3 separate regions of the Homo sapiens genome follow, and regions 1 and 3 are each linked to region 2. The links come from fine-mapping of genetic effects on gene expression. A gene starts in region 2. Each other region holds a variant in brackets. All regions are shown on one strand. Distances are between the middles of the regions.

The links. PIP is the estimated chance that this variant, and not a neighbour inherited with it, causes the effect.
Region 1: its variant is fine-mapped to the expression of KIFAP3 in whole blood (INTERVAL, PIP 0.93).
Region 3: its variant is fine-mapped to the expression of KIFAP3 in whole blood (TOPMed, PIP above 0.99).

The regions. Positions count from the first base shown.
Region 1 is chr1:169,998,461-170,003,697 of GRCh38, reverse strand. All of the region lies in intron 10 of KIFAP3 (kinesin associated protein 3), which reads left to right. Among named protein-coding and RNA genes, the nearest start is that of KIFAP3, 74 kb to the left of the region's middle. RefSeq lists an enhancer at 1-486. The variant C/T (reference allele first, on the strand shown) is at 2,201.
Region 2 is chr1:170,072,681-170,077,917 of GRCh38, reverse strand. KIFAP3 (kinesin associated protein 3) reads left to right here and starts at 3,223. Exons shown (of 20, transcript NM_014970.4): 1 at 3,223-3,482. The coding sequence starts at 3,451. RefSeq lists enhancers at 2,995-3,294, 3,355-3,414.
Region 3 is chr1:169,919,553-169,924,789 of GRCh38, reverse strand. KIFAP3 (kinesin associated protein 3) reads left to right here. Exons shown (of 20, transcript NM_014970.4): 20 at 3,009-3,461. The coding sequence ends at 3,114. Among named protein-coding and RNA genes, the nearest start is that of SCYL3, 28 kb to the right of the region's middle. The variant T/C (reference allele first, on the strand shown) is at 3,244.

The DNA of each region.
Region 1 (5,237 bases), 74 kb after region 2:
CAAGCTCGAACTGGGTGGAGCCCACCACAGCTGAAGGAAGCCTGCCTGCCTGCCTCTGTAGGCTCCACCTCTGGGGGCAGGGCACAAACAGACAAAAGGCAGCAGTAACCTCTGCAGACTTAGATGTCCCTGTCTGACAGCTTTGAAGAGATTAGTGGTTCTCCCAGCAGGCAGCTTGAGATCTGAGAACGGGCAGACTGCCTCCTCAAGTGCGTCCCTGACTCCCGAGTAGCCTAACTGGGAGGCACCCCCCAGTAGGTGTGGACTGACACCTCACACGGCCGGGAGGATTTGTTATAGAGGGTTTGTTTTAAACATTGAAATAGCACCTTAATTTCACTTATATTTTATAGCTTTCTCATGTATCAGTGAATTCAGGGCAGGAATCTTCTAATACAGTGATACTCAAAGTATGGTCCACAGAGCAATACTTGGTCTATTTGTTATTGGTTGTTACTGGTCTATAATGAGTAAGTCCAAAAATTGAAAGTAAGCACTTAGACACATATAGCAGTTTGACTGAATAAGATTTTGTCTGCTGAATGTAATAATAAAAATTTGCATCTTCTATTTTATATATCTTTTGTTTAATTTCATTTTTATTGTACTTTAATAAAAATGTTAGGGGAAGAAATGAAAAAACCTGGCTCACCACCACAGATAGTTTGAGAACCACTGTTCAAATAGATGAAATGGCAGTCTTAATCCTAGGTTAGTAAACTGTTCTTTAAACGTATTCAGAAGTCCATATAATTAGAACCCAGTATCACAGAATTACCCTGCCTTGGGATACCTCCTTAGCTCATTTATAAGCAGAGATGAGAATGTTTCTCATCCTTAAAAACTGAGGAATTAGTAGTGTTACCAATAGATGTTGCTAAGCTTTTCTATACTTAGAATAAGTGAATATTCATCTGGTGTACTTGTGTTAAGCATTTTCATATATAATTTATAAACCTATGCAAATTAACTAAAAAAGTTAATAGCTCTGACATATTTCTTAAAGTTATCTTTTAATCAGCAGAGCCACCCTGGTCAGTGATAAACGTATGGCACTGAAAGCTACTAGTATGAAGGTTTGAGCCATCATTTAAATTTTGATTCTGAGTTCTACCTGTGTAAATTTTGATTCTTCTAACTTTAAGAGTTTTAAATCTGTGCCAGTTTGCATGGCTGGCTTGTGCAGAAACTAATGTTATTGGTTATGACAGGAAAATTGGGACTCCTAAATTCAATAGCACATCAGGCCTGTTTCACAATTTTATGTGAATAATTTCAAAAGGTCTAATTTTTAGTCAGTAATGTTAGACCATATTGTCTTCATTGGAAGACAAATTAGAGTTTCTAAGGTGTTCCATATTGATATAAATGTTTCTCTATTCTGTGAGTAGACCCAAAATTGATTTTGAGAGTAAGAATGGCACCTGATTCATTTTTGTCTAGATTACATTTAGGTAATATGGGTTTGGGGCATTTTACAGAGCTGTAGAACAGTTTCATCAGCATGTAAGGAGTCAGACCAGGTCAAGAGTTAAGTGACAAATGTTTGATTTCTTCCGGTTTAGACAAGTCTGATTTCCCTTATTTTTGGAGATCACCAGAGCAGATACTGTTGAACTCTAAACTTTGATCATATAAAAACTAAGGGTTATTTCCTTTGACCATTCTGTCATATGTCTTTAAAAGAAAATTGACAAAGTTAACTTCTGAACACCTTTGAAATTTTTCCACAATTTTAAATTCACTTATTTACTTTATATTAATATGATCTAACTTTTAATTTACCAACAGCATCATAAAGAATGAAAAAATGAAACTTTATTTTGTGAAGAAAGCAACATTTTGCCTTTTCTGACTTATTAAAAACTGTTTGGAAATGGTCAGAATAATGATTTCCAAGCAAAATGAAGTGTTTTCCATTTTTTTGAAACTAGGTTGCCTTTATGATAGTTTCTTTAAGAAACTTAAAGTAGATTTTTTAAAAAATAAATTGGTTTGGTTGTTCTGTTTATTACCGAACTGTTATGGAATTTCACACATCTGTTTCAGAACACAACTCCTCATAGACTACTACACTGTTTCTCAATTTTAATAGGCCTCATTTATCCTATAAATAAACCTACATTTTCTTACCTGATCAAGTGAGCAAACAATAGGGGTCAGAAGTGGCAAACAGTTTAACAGAAAGCACATGTCTCGC[C/T]GTCAGGGTGAGGTAGACTCATATCAAGATTGCTTGAAGTTATTAATGGCAGTAAAATTTATGCTTCCTCCTGTTTTCCCAATTAAATCAAGAAGCCTTTTTTCTTAAGATTCTTCTGTCACCAGCTGGTTCCAATACTGTGTGTGTGTGAATATTGCCTAGGGTGTCTCCATTTCTAGATGGTAAAATTTGGCCAAAGCATATTAAGTCAATGATTTGGACATACAGGCTAGAAAGCAGTCATTGTTAAGGGCTTTATTTTGATCCTTATCATTTGTACCACAAGTATGTGTATTCTTTAGATCTTATTGCAAATAACTTGTATTCTATGGATGTAATAAAAATTCTACAGAAGACATAATAAAATAATTGAAGATATGATGAAAAATAAGCTGTGTGGCAAAATGTACAGTTGTACATACTAAAACAAATGAAAATCTATCAAAAATGTTCTATATAAGAGTACTCATTTAGTGACTATCTCTAAAAACAATGTTTAGCTTACTGGTAGATCTGCAATGTTAGTTTCTCATACTTTTAAAATTAAATAATTGGACATAAAAAATTACTTATCCGTGAACCACTGTACCTCAGAAACTATTGTTGTACTTAATGTTTTCATACTGATCTTTGTAACCTATAAATTATGTTATTTTTTCCCCTTAACTGTTGGTTAACAACTGTTGGTTTTTATCTGTTCATCTCAAATCTCGACTATAGACAAATATATTATAAAAGAGATCATCCAATGTAGTTACAGTCTTAAACATTGGTCTGTGCAAATTCAAGTTTAAACTAAGGCTATCTGTTTATATTGAGTATATATCTGCAGTATATGCTCTAATAAGTTAAGCATAAAATTATATGGAAACATGTATCAAAGATGTTCTGATATAGCTTCAATGTGTTTTTAGTCTATGTCAGTGTGTAGTTAACATGTTCAATAATTGTTGCAATTATCTTTTAAGTGGTGGTTTTCACCTGTGGCATTTTCACTGTATTGATAGAACTTTAGGGGCTCTCACTCCGTAATAAATGTAAAGACACCTGCAAATTTTGAAGCACGTTGTATTCATATAGACTTTCCAGGGGTAATATATCACCTTAATGCTATTCTATCCTAATATAGGTGTGCTTATATTCCCACTTCTATTATCTTTTCATGGAGCCTCTGTGACATCAAAGGGAGTGTTCCACTTTGAAAGAAGAAGACATAGAGTATAGAAGGGAATGAGAATCTGGCTAATAATGTGGCCCATAACTTGTGTTCTCACTTTGTTTTCACAGTGTTGGGCTGGATCTACTGCAGAAGCGGAAATTTGGCTTTTGAGTTCTCATGTTCAGAACTCGTATTTCTGCTTGACTGAACTGTGAATGAAAAATCCCAAGTGTCTTACAAAATTAGTAATTGAATGGTGTTTTTACTGATCACTTCACAGATGAAAAAACTGAAGACATTTTAAAATTCAAAACCCATCAGCATGTGTTTTGCCCTTTAATTGGCAGAAAATCGATTGTGAGAGCAGCCCAGAGAGCTGATAGTTTTTTCTCCTTCAGCTGCTCCAGCTGAACTACAGCTGTAAATTTCTTTAAAAAGAAAAAAAGATGCAATGTTTCTTATAAACTCTTGAATGTACTTTATAAGTGCAATAATTCCCACAAAATCAGTTACTGGAGTTAATGACCAGTTTGTTAAGGCATTAACTGCCCTCAGCTGGGAATGACCAATTTGAGGGGAATGGCTGCACAAATGCTAAGATAATTCAGTAACACTTTCAAATAATGATCCAGCTAATTAACGGTGAATTCCTGTGGAAATCCTATCGAAGTACTTATGACCTCTGCGTTTAATAGCCAGTGAGTTCATCATGATTCATGTTTATTACCATAAATACCAAAGGAATCATAATGACTAGGCCATTTTTTTTCTACCCTGCCCTTATTACTTGAACAGATTTAACTAATCCACCTCCAGTCATTAAGAACCTAGTTCTCAAGATACTCAGTCTTTTCACTGCCCTTGCTTAAAATTCACAGTCTTTGGTGCTGTGCCAGCATGCTGACTGTTGGCAGCCTGTTTTTACTTGGGATGCCGTTAGGGAATAATTGATGTCTTTATGTCTTAAAGGAGCCTTTTTGAAATGTCTACCATTTGTAGGATGTAGAGGAATCATAGCCGGTTAGCTACAGTTTATGGCTTCTAGTCATGAATTCTTACGAGAAAATCATACCCTCCAATCCTCATTTCTTGTAGGAATTCACTTAGGGTATATAAGATTTTTTTTCTTGAGCTTTATTTTGTAAGAACTCAGATGTTCTTTCTTTCAGTGAATGAAGAAGACTATTAGTTTACAATAAAAGATAAGCTCTTTATTTTACTTAGACCATTTAATCTCTCTAATAGCTGTTTATTGCTATGTGATCTGCAAATTAGCCTTTAAGTCGTAATATTAAATGTTGGCTGCCAAAGAGTCTTTACTTTCTTTGCAGACCTGTGTTTGAATAGATGAATTCAGGTTATTGCCAGACATCTTCCCCCTCCACGTACTCAATTTTGTTCTAAAATGCCTTGTCTTTTTGTTGTAGGTTCCAGATATCTGCTAGATGCCGTGAAGTTATAGGCTGCATTTTTATTAAGTATTGATTATTTATGTAATCATTTATGATTCAGTGAATAAGATACATATGGTTTATATACTGTAGTCTTCATATATTGAAATTATTTAGAAGAGAAAGAAAATATGTGATTTGTAACTGTAGGATAGAACTAGAATCATCAAGATAATATGTGGGTAACAAGACCGTTTATAAAATATTTACGTATTTTTCTGAATAAAAGGCCAAATGCCAGTTTATATCTTTTTCATTCCCTAATTACAAAAAGGGGGGGAATTAAATTTATAGTTATTTGTAAATCAGTTGTTTAAATTCTAGGGGAAACTTTACTCACATAAAATCCAGAAGACACATTAGCAACTTGGGTTAGAATATTATAGTCCCTTAGCTCTGTCATCACCTCCTTTCACACTGTTTCCTC
Region 2 (5,237 bases):
CATGGAATAGTACTTAACAATAAAAAAAAAAACAGGACCGAAAAACAAAATGGATTGTCTTCAAATGCATTGTGCTAAATGAAAGAAACCAGATTCAAAAGGCTACAGCGCCTATCATTACATTCAGATGACGTTCTGGAAAAGGCAAAATTATAGGAACAGAAAACAGATCAGTATTTACCAGAGCCTGGGGTTGTGGGGATAAGGCGACTCCAAAGGATACAAAGGAATTTTAGAGGATGACAGAACTGCTCTATGATTGTGCAGGTAATTATATGACTTAAGAGTTTTTCAAAACTTAGAGAACTGTAGGCCAAGAAGAATGCATGTTATTGTTTTTAAATTATAGTGCAATTTAAATAAAGCATCATGCTGTATTTAATCTGCCACAATTTTTCACTCAGTATCATGTTTCTAATATTCATCCATGTCATATGTAAAGTTCTAGTTCATCAACTTTCTCTGCTGCATATTATTGTATTGTGTGAATATTTCAAATGTATTCATTCATTCTCCTGCAAAAGTATTTTGTTATTGTCTTTCTGTTTTTCATTTTCTACTAAGCTCAATACTTCTCCAATGATTTTGGAACAATTTTATGAAGTATAGAACTAGGAGTAGAATTGCTGAGATTTAGAGTATGTGCCTATTCAACTTTACAAAATAATCTGACATTTTATTCCCTTGTTTGGCCCCGCCCACATCCTGCTGATTGGTGTTACAGAGTGCTGATTGGTGCATTTACAATCCTTTAGCTAGACACAGGGCGTTGATTGGTGCATTTTTACAGAGTGCTGATTGGTGCGTTTACAATCCTTTAGCTAGACACAGAGCACTAATTGGTGCGTTTGTACAGAGTGCTGATTGGTGCATTTACAATCCTTTAGCTAGACCCAGAGTGCTGATTGGTGCATTTACAACCCTCTAGCTAGACAGAAAAGTTCTCCAAGTCCCCACCCGACCCAGAAGTCCAGCTGGGTTCACCTCTCACTAATGATGCTGTTTGCTTGTCTGTTTAAAATGCTGACAGCTAGATCTCCTCATTGTAAAGTAACATTTCTTTTCCTTTAGAATTATAAAGAAATATGCGGGGTAAAACTTTGCCTCACTTTAAATTATTTTAAAGTAAATTAATAGGGCTTATTTGAATCCATTGTTTATTGGTGCTTGCAAAATAGTAACTATCATTATTTTTCTCCATTCCTACCAGGTATTTTCTGTTAAGAAGAGCTTTTCCTTGTTAAAAGGAGGTGAAATCTGGTTTATTTCCAAAAGCATTAGATTAAATCCTTCTTTCTTTTAATTACCAGCTTTCAGAGTAAAGATCTGATGCAGTAGTTGCCTCCAGTGGAAGTGGGGTTCTTTTTTCCCTGTTTTTCTATGTTGTTGAGTATCATTATGGATTTCTTTTTTTTATTTATTTAATGTCTTAAATCAATCCCAGTAATTCCATTTGATTCCCAAATTGCCTCAAATTCACCAGTGTCCTTTTTACATAATCTTATCTTCTTAGTCTCTGACTATGTCCTTACTGTCAAGCATAAAATGTTCCAGGCTCATCTTGTACTTTTCCTGCCACAGACAGACAGTTTATCTAGTTCAGTCCCAGTTTCAGCTATCTATTTATTGCTCTGGTTTCCAGCTCTCTCTTTCTTTCTGGCCTCTGGGCATTTTCTTTAGGTTTTTTTGTTGTTGTTGTTGCTATTGTTTTTTCAAGCTCAGGTTTGCATTTTTTCAACACCAAAATTTTTATTCAGTGACAACTATGGGCTGAATGCAAAAGTGAACGAAATAAGTTCTCTGAGCTCAAGGAGCTAACTTACATTCCAAAAATCCTTGTTATATTATCTATGCATTTTAATGTATATTTTGGTCTTCCAATTTTACGTATTGTGAAGATTTTAAAGTAATCTAGCCTGCTATATTACCATTAAAGGTGTTATAAATGATAATTTGTAAAATTTTACATTAGTTTGCAGAATTAATATTTAGAAAAACAAAAAATAGGAAGTCCAATGAGGAAGGAATTGCAGTACTCTAGGTATAAAGTGATTAGACTATTGGTAGAAGTAAGAATGTAGAAAAAAACTGGACTACCTGAATATCTTGAAGGAAGAAAAGATAGAATTTTGTAACACTTTAGTAAGAGGGCATGATACAGAGGAAGGAGTCAAAATTAGCTGCAAATTTTCTTCCCTTTCAGAATGAAAGAATGACTATAACATCTACAGAAATAGTGTAGCTGGTGTGAATGGGTGGGAAGATAAAAATATATTTTGTTGGGTAAGGACTGTATTTCTATATTTAATATACCATGCAGTGCCTTAACATGGTGTTTTACACATAACGGATAATCAATAATTGCATCAATGTACTACATTTGAAAAAAGCAGCAGAGCAACTACGTGCACGTCTCAAAGCAACTGGGAAAACAGGACTAGAAGACAGTGAATAAGTGACAAGATTATAGGTGAGCAGGGGGAGTAGAGGTGCTTTCTTTGCATCCCTAGAGCCTGGTTTGGTGTTTGGCACACAGCCAGCCCTCAATTCACATTTACCAAATAAATGAACCTATATCATTTGCATAGACATAATAGCTGAACCCATGGGAATAGATCTTAAACCAGAGAACATGCAGTTAAAAAAGAACCCTTCTTTCCTATGCCCTGCACTGCTAACAATTGCCTGCCTCAGAAGAAGCAATTCTAAACATACCTTGAGTTCAGGATAATTGGTGGAGTTGGAATTTCAGGAACTGTTTTTTGTTGCTGTTGTTTGTTTGTTTGTTTGTTTGTTTTGGTTGGGGGAGGTGTATTCTAGATTTAAGACATCAAAGTGACAGACTTGCCGCCTTCAAAGTTATATCCATTTTGTACAACGGTCAGATTATCTCCATAAGTTAGAGCTTGTAAGTGCAATCAGGGCCATTCAGGCCCCCAAATAGAAACCTCCCTTATTAGCTGGACTGCTGTATAGCATTCGCTAACTAAAAGGTTATCGGATTCCCCTCTCTCCTTTCAAGCTGACCTGACAGCCCTTTCTATTCCCATCCTCAAGGGGGCGGTGACTACGGAGCCACTCCTTATACACGGACGCTCAAAACTGCACCAAAACTTCCCTGCTCGGCTCCCCGGTGCGTCAAACTCTGAGGCCACCGCCTCAGACTGAGCCTGCGCATACAAGAGGTGCAGAGCAAGCGCATGCGTCGTGACGGCCCGGCTTAGGCGACTCTGGGCGGGTCTGGGCCGCTCCAGTGTTTTGGGGCACAGAAGCTGTGGGAGGAGCTGGAGGCTTCACCGTGGTAACCACAGCGCCGCTGCTGCCCCGCCTTGCAGGCCTCAGGACTGTCATCGCCTCTGGGTGTGAGGGTACTTTGGCCACCGTCCCCGGAAATAACCGCGCCTGCCTCTCAAGATACCCCATCCTCTCCACGCCGCTGCCGCTGCCGCCATGCAAGGGGAGGACGCCAGATACCTCAAAAGGTGACGACTCCCCAAGGCTCTGTCCTACCCTCCTTGCCAGGGCCCTGAAGATGTTCTTGGGTTGGCTGTGAGATGTCACTGGGCAACGCTAGTTTAGCAGACGGGATGGGAAGCAGGGAGAGAAGTCACCGAAAGGAGAGGGAAAAGGTGAAGTGGAGAAAAAAGGAGAGCTCTGGGGGGGTTTCAAAGTCCTTTGACCTGACTCGGCGGAGCCCTGACAGCATTGAAAGATGGTTTCTTCGCTACATCACCTTATTCCAGGGGGAGAGGGAGGTAGGGCAAGGTAAACCGCGTCTTTTGTTTTTTTTTTCGCCTCTTCCCAGACTCTCCATTTTCCCATAATAGATAAATCCCATGAGAGCCTGGGAATAAAGTCTGGTGCATCCGCCCTCAGGCCTCAGTTTGGGGTTCATTGCCATGGGCTTTTGAAATGATGAAGGGGAAAGAAGTGGTGGATTCTACTTTTTGGAAGGCTGAATTGAGATGTTGATTTCCAGTCTCTTTCTGCTTTCCGCATCCATGTCATCCATTTGACTCCCATGTATACAACATAATTTTTGTAGGACATTTAGTAATTATTAAGAGGTTTGTTCAGAAGTTTGATGACAATAAAATAGGCCATAATTTCTTTTAAATATAGTATCAGTTACTCAAAAAAATTGTAGTCTGTTGGGATTATTTGGGTGCTGGCAAATACTCAGATCATTCCTGATTTGGAAAAAAAAAAAGATACCTCCCACTGAACCAAGAGTAAGCAGTGATCCAATAGAAAAAAATTTTAATTCAGTACTGATTCAGTAAATACCCTGGAAAAGTCGCATGTATTCCTTTGGGCACGGTTTCCTCATCTGAAAATGGGACAGGCGTTACCTTCTGAGAGATACAAGGACGAAAGATGAAATACTTTTAAAAAATGAAACATGAATGTAAGGTGGTGGTATTATTTCAAGTCATAATACACTTGCAGTGAATATTTTTATTCTGGCTTGGCTGAGCTCTCATCATCACAGAAAGATCTTCCAAGTGTTAGTAGACTCATAGAAGGGATTCAAACAATTGTATAATAAATAAATCAACTCTATTGTCCTGGCAAGACAGGCATATATTGACTGTCTTTTTTATTTTATGTAAATATATCTGAAACTGGCAAATAGCCAGACTTTGTCAGTAAAAATTTTTAAATGAATATATAAGCCTACATCAGTGTTTATTTCCTCACTGAATTTTACTTAACGTTGGTTTTTAAAATACCTTGGTTAAAAATTTTGTGACAGAAGAAAATAAATTGCCTTTTAACTTTAAATTCAAAATTGTTCTGGAACAAAGAGCCGCTGTTATACCATTAGCTGATTTTCATGTAATATATTTGTGTCAGAGGTAGTTTTTCTTAACATTATCGTACCAGTATGGACACTGAGGCATACTGTGACTTATAATTCTCAACCTATTGTTTGCTTTTAAATACATACTATCTAGAGTTCCAAAATTAAAACCAAGCCAGTCAATGTAATGTTTGAAGTAAAATGAGATTAGAGTCTGAAAAGGTTGAAAAATACATTTCTCAATTTCATCTAATTTTTACTATAAATAATAAAAAGTTTGAATTGTCTGTTTTCAGACTAGAAGCATACAGGAGACATGTATTTATACAGGCCTGATGGAAAACATTTGTGATGTCTGATAGAACCTTCAATTTTAATTATTGTTTTTTGACCATGATTACATATATTCTTTAACAATATTTTTACTTTTATA
Region 3 (5,237 bases), 150 kb after region 2:
AAAGGAAAACTCTCCGGGTTTTGAACTAAACTCAGCATTAGCAAGGCTGTATCCTTTTCCCAAGGAAAAAAGTAAAGTGTCTACATATTCCAAAAGAATGTCTCCAGGTTTTAGCATCCTAGAAAGCCTGATTTCCCCCACTATATTAGAAAGAAGCAAATGAGAGTTTAAAGAAACAAACTGTTATGTTTCACAGTGAATTTAATTAAAAATGTATGTAGATATAGTTGATTTTTCATAATACAAAAGGACCTAGGACCTATGTCAAAGTACTCTCCAAACTGATCATAAATGTTTTAAATATTTTTTGCTTTAAACAGCAAGTTCATCTGTGATACATAATGGAGAATTCCAGAAAAGATCATTTTAGAGTTTGGTTTCAAATTTTATTCCTTTTTTCCAAAACGATATTTGTATATAGAAATTCGAAAAATTAAATGATATCCTCTACACTGTAATACACACAGATGTCTCTGGGTGAACTGCTGACTACATAAATAGATCTTTACCATAGTAACCTAAAGACCATACTGTTCAAGACCAGAGATTTACAGGTTCAGAAACTCAGACTCATCAGTGCTCAAGGGCCAGTCTTTCACTGACTTGGGACTGCAGGTTTTTATCAACAATGTGCATGACATATTTTAAAAAGAAAAATCCATTTGTTAATGTACAATGAAAGTTATAACCATCAGGTGGATTAGGTAATATCTAAGTTTATTATTTAACCTGTTGGCAAATTACATGGGAAATTACAGTGATCAATAGTTTGCCTATTAGTCGTAGAAATAAAAAAAAGGGGGAGAATTTTGCAACTTGAATGTAGAATGGCCTCAGACTCTGAGAATGTTAAATTCCCTTCCTGATTGAGGACCAAACTGCAAAAAGGCCAGATATTCCTTATGGTGTTATAGCTTACCAGATCACCACGCAATTGCCTAGGTTGCTACAACCAGCGTTGTAGCTGAGACGCTCCTTGTTCTGTGCCAATGACTGGTGAACTCCCTTCTGAGGACCATCTTCTTTTAGGTAGAATTACAGTGATATTGCTAACAAGTCGTCTGTGAGATACTCTGAAGGTGCCTTTGCATGTTTCCTCACTGTCCCACATATGCCTCTTGTTTTCATATTACTGAAATAGATCTTGCCATAGCCCCTAGATTGAGAAACAAGCATAAGATTAACTTGAGTTTAACCTAAGTCTACTGCTATTTGGCCTCAGAGGAGTTGCTAAAAAAGATAAGGACTGGTTGAAGACAGGTAATAAGCAAAAGATGAAGAAGGAACAAGTTGAAATCCAAGCTATGTAATCAACAGTTATATAATTGAGAGTTCTTTAGATACATGATTACTTGTTAGCCTTAGTGCTTGCAGAGAACAGTTTTCAATAACTTCTCTAATTTTAAGCTGATACCAGTGTCTCTTAGTTCACTGATTCCACTAATTTCTGAAGCATCTTTTAAGCTACCTCTTGATTTCCTCATCACAAAATTTAGTCTCTCTTCCCATGAGATCAAAGTTAGAAAAAGTGCCTATATTTTTACCATTTCAAAATAAAATGTAGACTTAAAAATTTCAACCAACTTTGAGAAACTATAGACAGAGTTTTTATATAGAAGGACCCCAAAACAACAAATTTTGTCCAGAATCGCTCAGTACAAATGCTAACCTGAAACTTGTATTTCAGAACTTCCATTCTCCTAAAGGGCAGAGTCACTGGACCAGTATGTGTTATATGTATTTTGGCTCTTTACATTTACTCTTTAGTTCCATCTTAATACACACAAGCACGCGTGCACACAAACACACACACGCATTCACACATTTATTTAAAACCTTAACATTTTAATAGTTACTTCTAAAGTGTGTCAACTTAATCTCACTCTGAGTGTGACAGGGAGTTAGTGCCTATGTGAATATATTTTTTCATCACATTCAGTTTTTGCTATTGAGGGAAAATTATCTTTCCATCTCATGTAGTGCAAACTTAAATCTTAAATCATTTAAATATGTTTTATTTTTCCAAAGCTTACATTTCTGCATTACAAATGGTGTCCATTGATTGGAAGTCAAGCTCACTAGCATTCACTGCATGAGCTATGCATGAGCATGTTAAGGCCACCATGTTCTGCCTGGCAAAATAAATACTTTATCATTTTCCTAAGTGTTGGATAATTCCCTGACCTTTAAAAAGGACTTTGGAGAACAGATTTTCCTCTAAATAATGTATTAATAGACCAACAAGTAATTTTTTTAAAATAATAATCATGAAGTTTAACATACTTCAAGCTATCTTTACAACTCTGAAGGTTATCTTTGGGTTTCTGTTATTCCCATAGAATAAGTTGAACCAAAATTTGTAATTGTCTTGCTGTCACTCAAAAGAAATAGATATGTTTTGTAATTGTTTGCATTGAGGAATCAGAGGAAGGATTTGCAGATCAAATCTGACTAATTTTCAAATTTTGTCAAATTCCTTATCTTGTTCTTTTAATCATAGGCTTATGGTATGATTTGGCCCTGCATGAGAGTTCACTGATATAACTCAAACACATGTTTTTACTAAAAGTGGAATTAGTCCTGTATCTTCATATGAAAAGACATTATAAACAGCAAAACTCACTTTACTACAGTTTTATTTTTATCATTCCCTAGCAATATATTACTGATCATTGCTAGCATGTAAAATCTTTTCATATTTTTGCTTAAGAGCCATATATAAGTAATTTATTAAATAAAACTTTTCTGATTTGATTCTTCCACTTTGTTTCAAATAGTACCTACTGACAGAGGTTTCCCATACTTTTAACACACATTGTTAGAAGTATTTTATTATATACACTTTTAATGGCTCTATTAACCTTAAAAAAAAAAGTTAATGATATCCACCTAAATCACTATCCCTGCTAGGAAGAGAATCTTGGTGGTATAAAAATGTAGGCCTCTTAATCTGCATTGTGGATGTGTGATGAAAAACATAGCTTATCATTCTTTTTTTTCTTTTTTAGCCTTGGAATGGATGGCTTTGGCCAACCAGTTGGCATTCTTGGACGCCCTGCCACAGCATATGGATTCCGCCCTGATGAACCTTACTACTATGGCTATGGATCTTGATAAAGTATCTGTTTCCATGTGTAATCTCAGCTTAGAAGAAATCTGTGTGGGTTGGGTTAATTTTGGATCTTTGCCTAATAATGCATGTTGATGTTATTGTGGGTCTGTGTTTGTTTTTATTTTTATATG[T/C]TGTTAGCTGCAGATTAACCCCAGCCCCTCTGTCTTCTGTTAAGTACAGTTGATACTGACATTGTTCACTCATCAAACCACATCTTGATGCTAAGTAACATTTCCCATGAGCCACAAAACTGAATGCTGAAAAGCTACTAGACTGGAAAACAAACACTGCATTATGTATGTTAAGTGACTAATTTAATTTCAATTAAAAAGCGTAAAGTGAAAATGAATAAGTGAAAGTCATGTGTTTATATTTCACACATTTCACTACGAATTACATGTTAATATAGGGTGCGCGTGAATTTTATTTTTTCTCCTTTTTTTCTGCTTGTAAACTCTTGAGTAATTTGTATAATATATGCTACCTTTAAAATTTATAAAAAGAACATCACCTTCATATTCCATGCCATGTGCCTGAAAGTTTCCTTCCCAAAGTTTATTAACTATGAGTTTTCAATTAATAATGGAACATATGTCATAAGTTATTTATGGTTATAGTCTCTTTGGTGGTTTTAATTCATATCTTCCTAGTTGTAATATAGAAATCCTAGGACAAGTAGTATACAAGACAAGCAGTGATACAAGATTAGCATTTGGCTTTTAACTTTTATTCTTCATAAATTTAGTATCTAAAGCATGGGAAAGCTAATTAAAAGTCGCATTAAGGAAAACTAAGGAACAGAATATTTCACTCACTTGGGTACCCAGTTCCCAATTGTTCACTTGTTCTTATAACGTACATTTAGATAGCAAGAAATGGAGAGACATTATATAATTCATAATGGGTTTTGAAAATAGTTCAGTGTTTTCATATTAAAAAAATGTTCAATTCTACTTGAAAAGCTGAGCAAAGAAATAACCATAATAATAACTATAATCAGAGATAGTTCCATGATCACCTGCTATGGGAGAAAATATGAAGCTTCAAAGGGAATACATAGATCAAAGATAAGACTTCTGTTCTTGAATTTAAAATCTCATTGATCTAACTACACTATTTATGTGGCTTAAATTACATTTTAAGCAGAAGATAACATTTGGAAAAGGCCTTTGAAATAACTCATTCCATCTACTTATTTAAGAAACCAATCACATAAAAAATTTAAATGTAATCAACAGATATTTTCCTGACTACCTGCTATGTGTAAGGAAGTATATGATGCCCCTTAGGAGATGTAAATCTGAGGTATGTTTATGCCTTTGATCTTTCTGAAAACATACATTTATTTGTCTTAGTTTCTATTTTAACCATAAAATATTAAAGCTGGAAAAGGCCTTAGAAGCAACCCTGTCCAACTCTAATTTTTGCAGTCAAAAAAACTGGCCAGGAGAGGTTAAGTGACTTAGTCAATGACATAGGCTGTCTCTTTGCTTCCTATTCAGCAATCTCAATACTAAATAGCTTGTTTTATTATTTATCATGTGTACAAAGTATAAATACACATAAGTGACATTAATAGGAAAATGATGCAAACATCCTATAGCTTTAACTTCCCTCATGTTGTTATAAACTGCATTAGGAAGAACACCCGCCAAAATTGATAAAATTCCCAGGGCTATGCTCGCTCAATTTTACGTGCACATGCTCACTCTCCCTAATTTTGTTTTCATTAGTATAGGACTTAACAAATTTAGAAATTGTAATCTTTCCACTCAGGCTTGAACTGGCTTACCATTGCATTATTTATGAAGGAATATTTTTCTAAAGAGATTAATAAGGAAGACTATGTAAAAAAAGATTTGTTTTAAGACAAGGTCTTGCTCTGTCACCCAGGCTGGAGTGCAGTGGCACAGTCATCATTCACTGCAGCCTCAGCCTCCCAGGCTCAAGTGATCCTCCCACCTCAGCCTCCCAAGTAGCTGAGACTACAAGCACGTGCCACTGCACTCGGCTAATTTTTTGTTTACTTTTTGCAGAGATGAGGTCTCACTATGTTGCCCAGGCTGGTCTCGAACTCCTAAGCTCAAGTAATCCACCTGCCTCAGCCTCCAAAGTGCTGCGATTA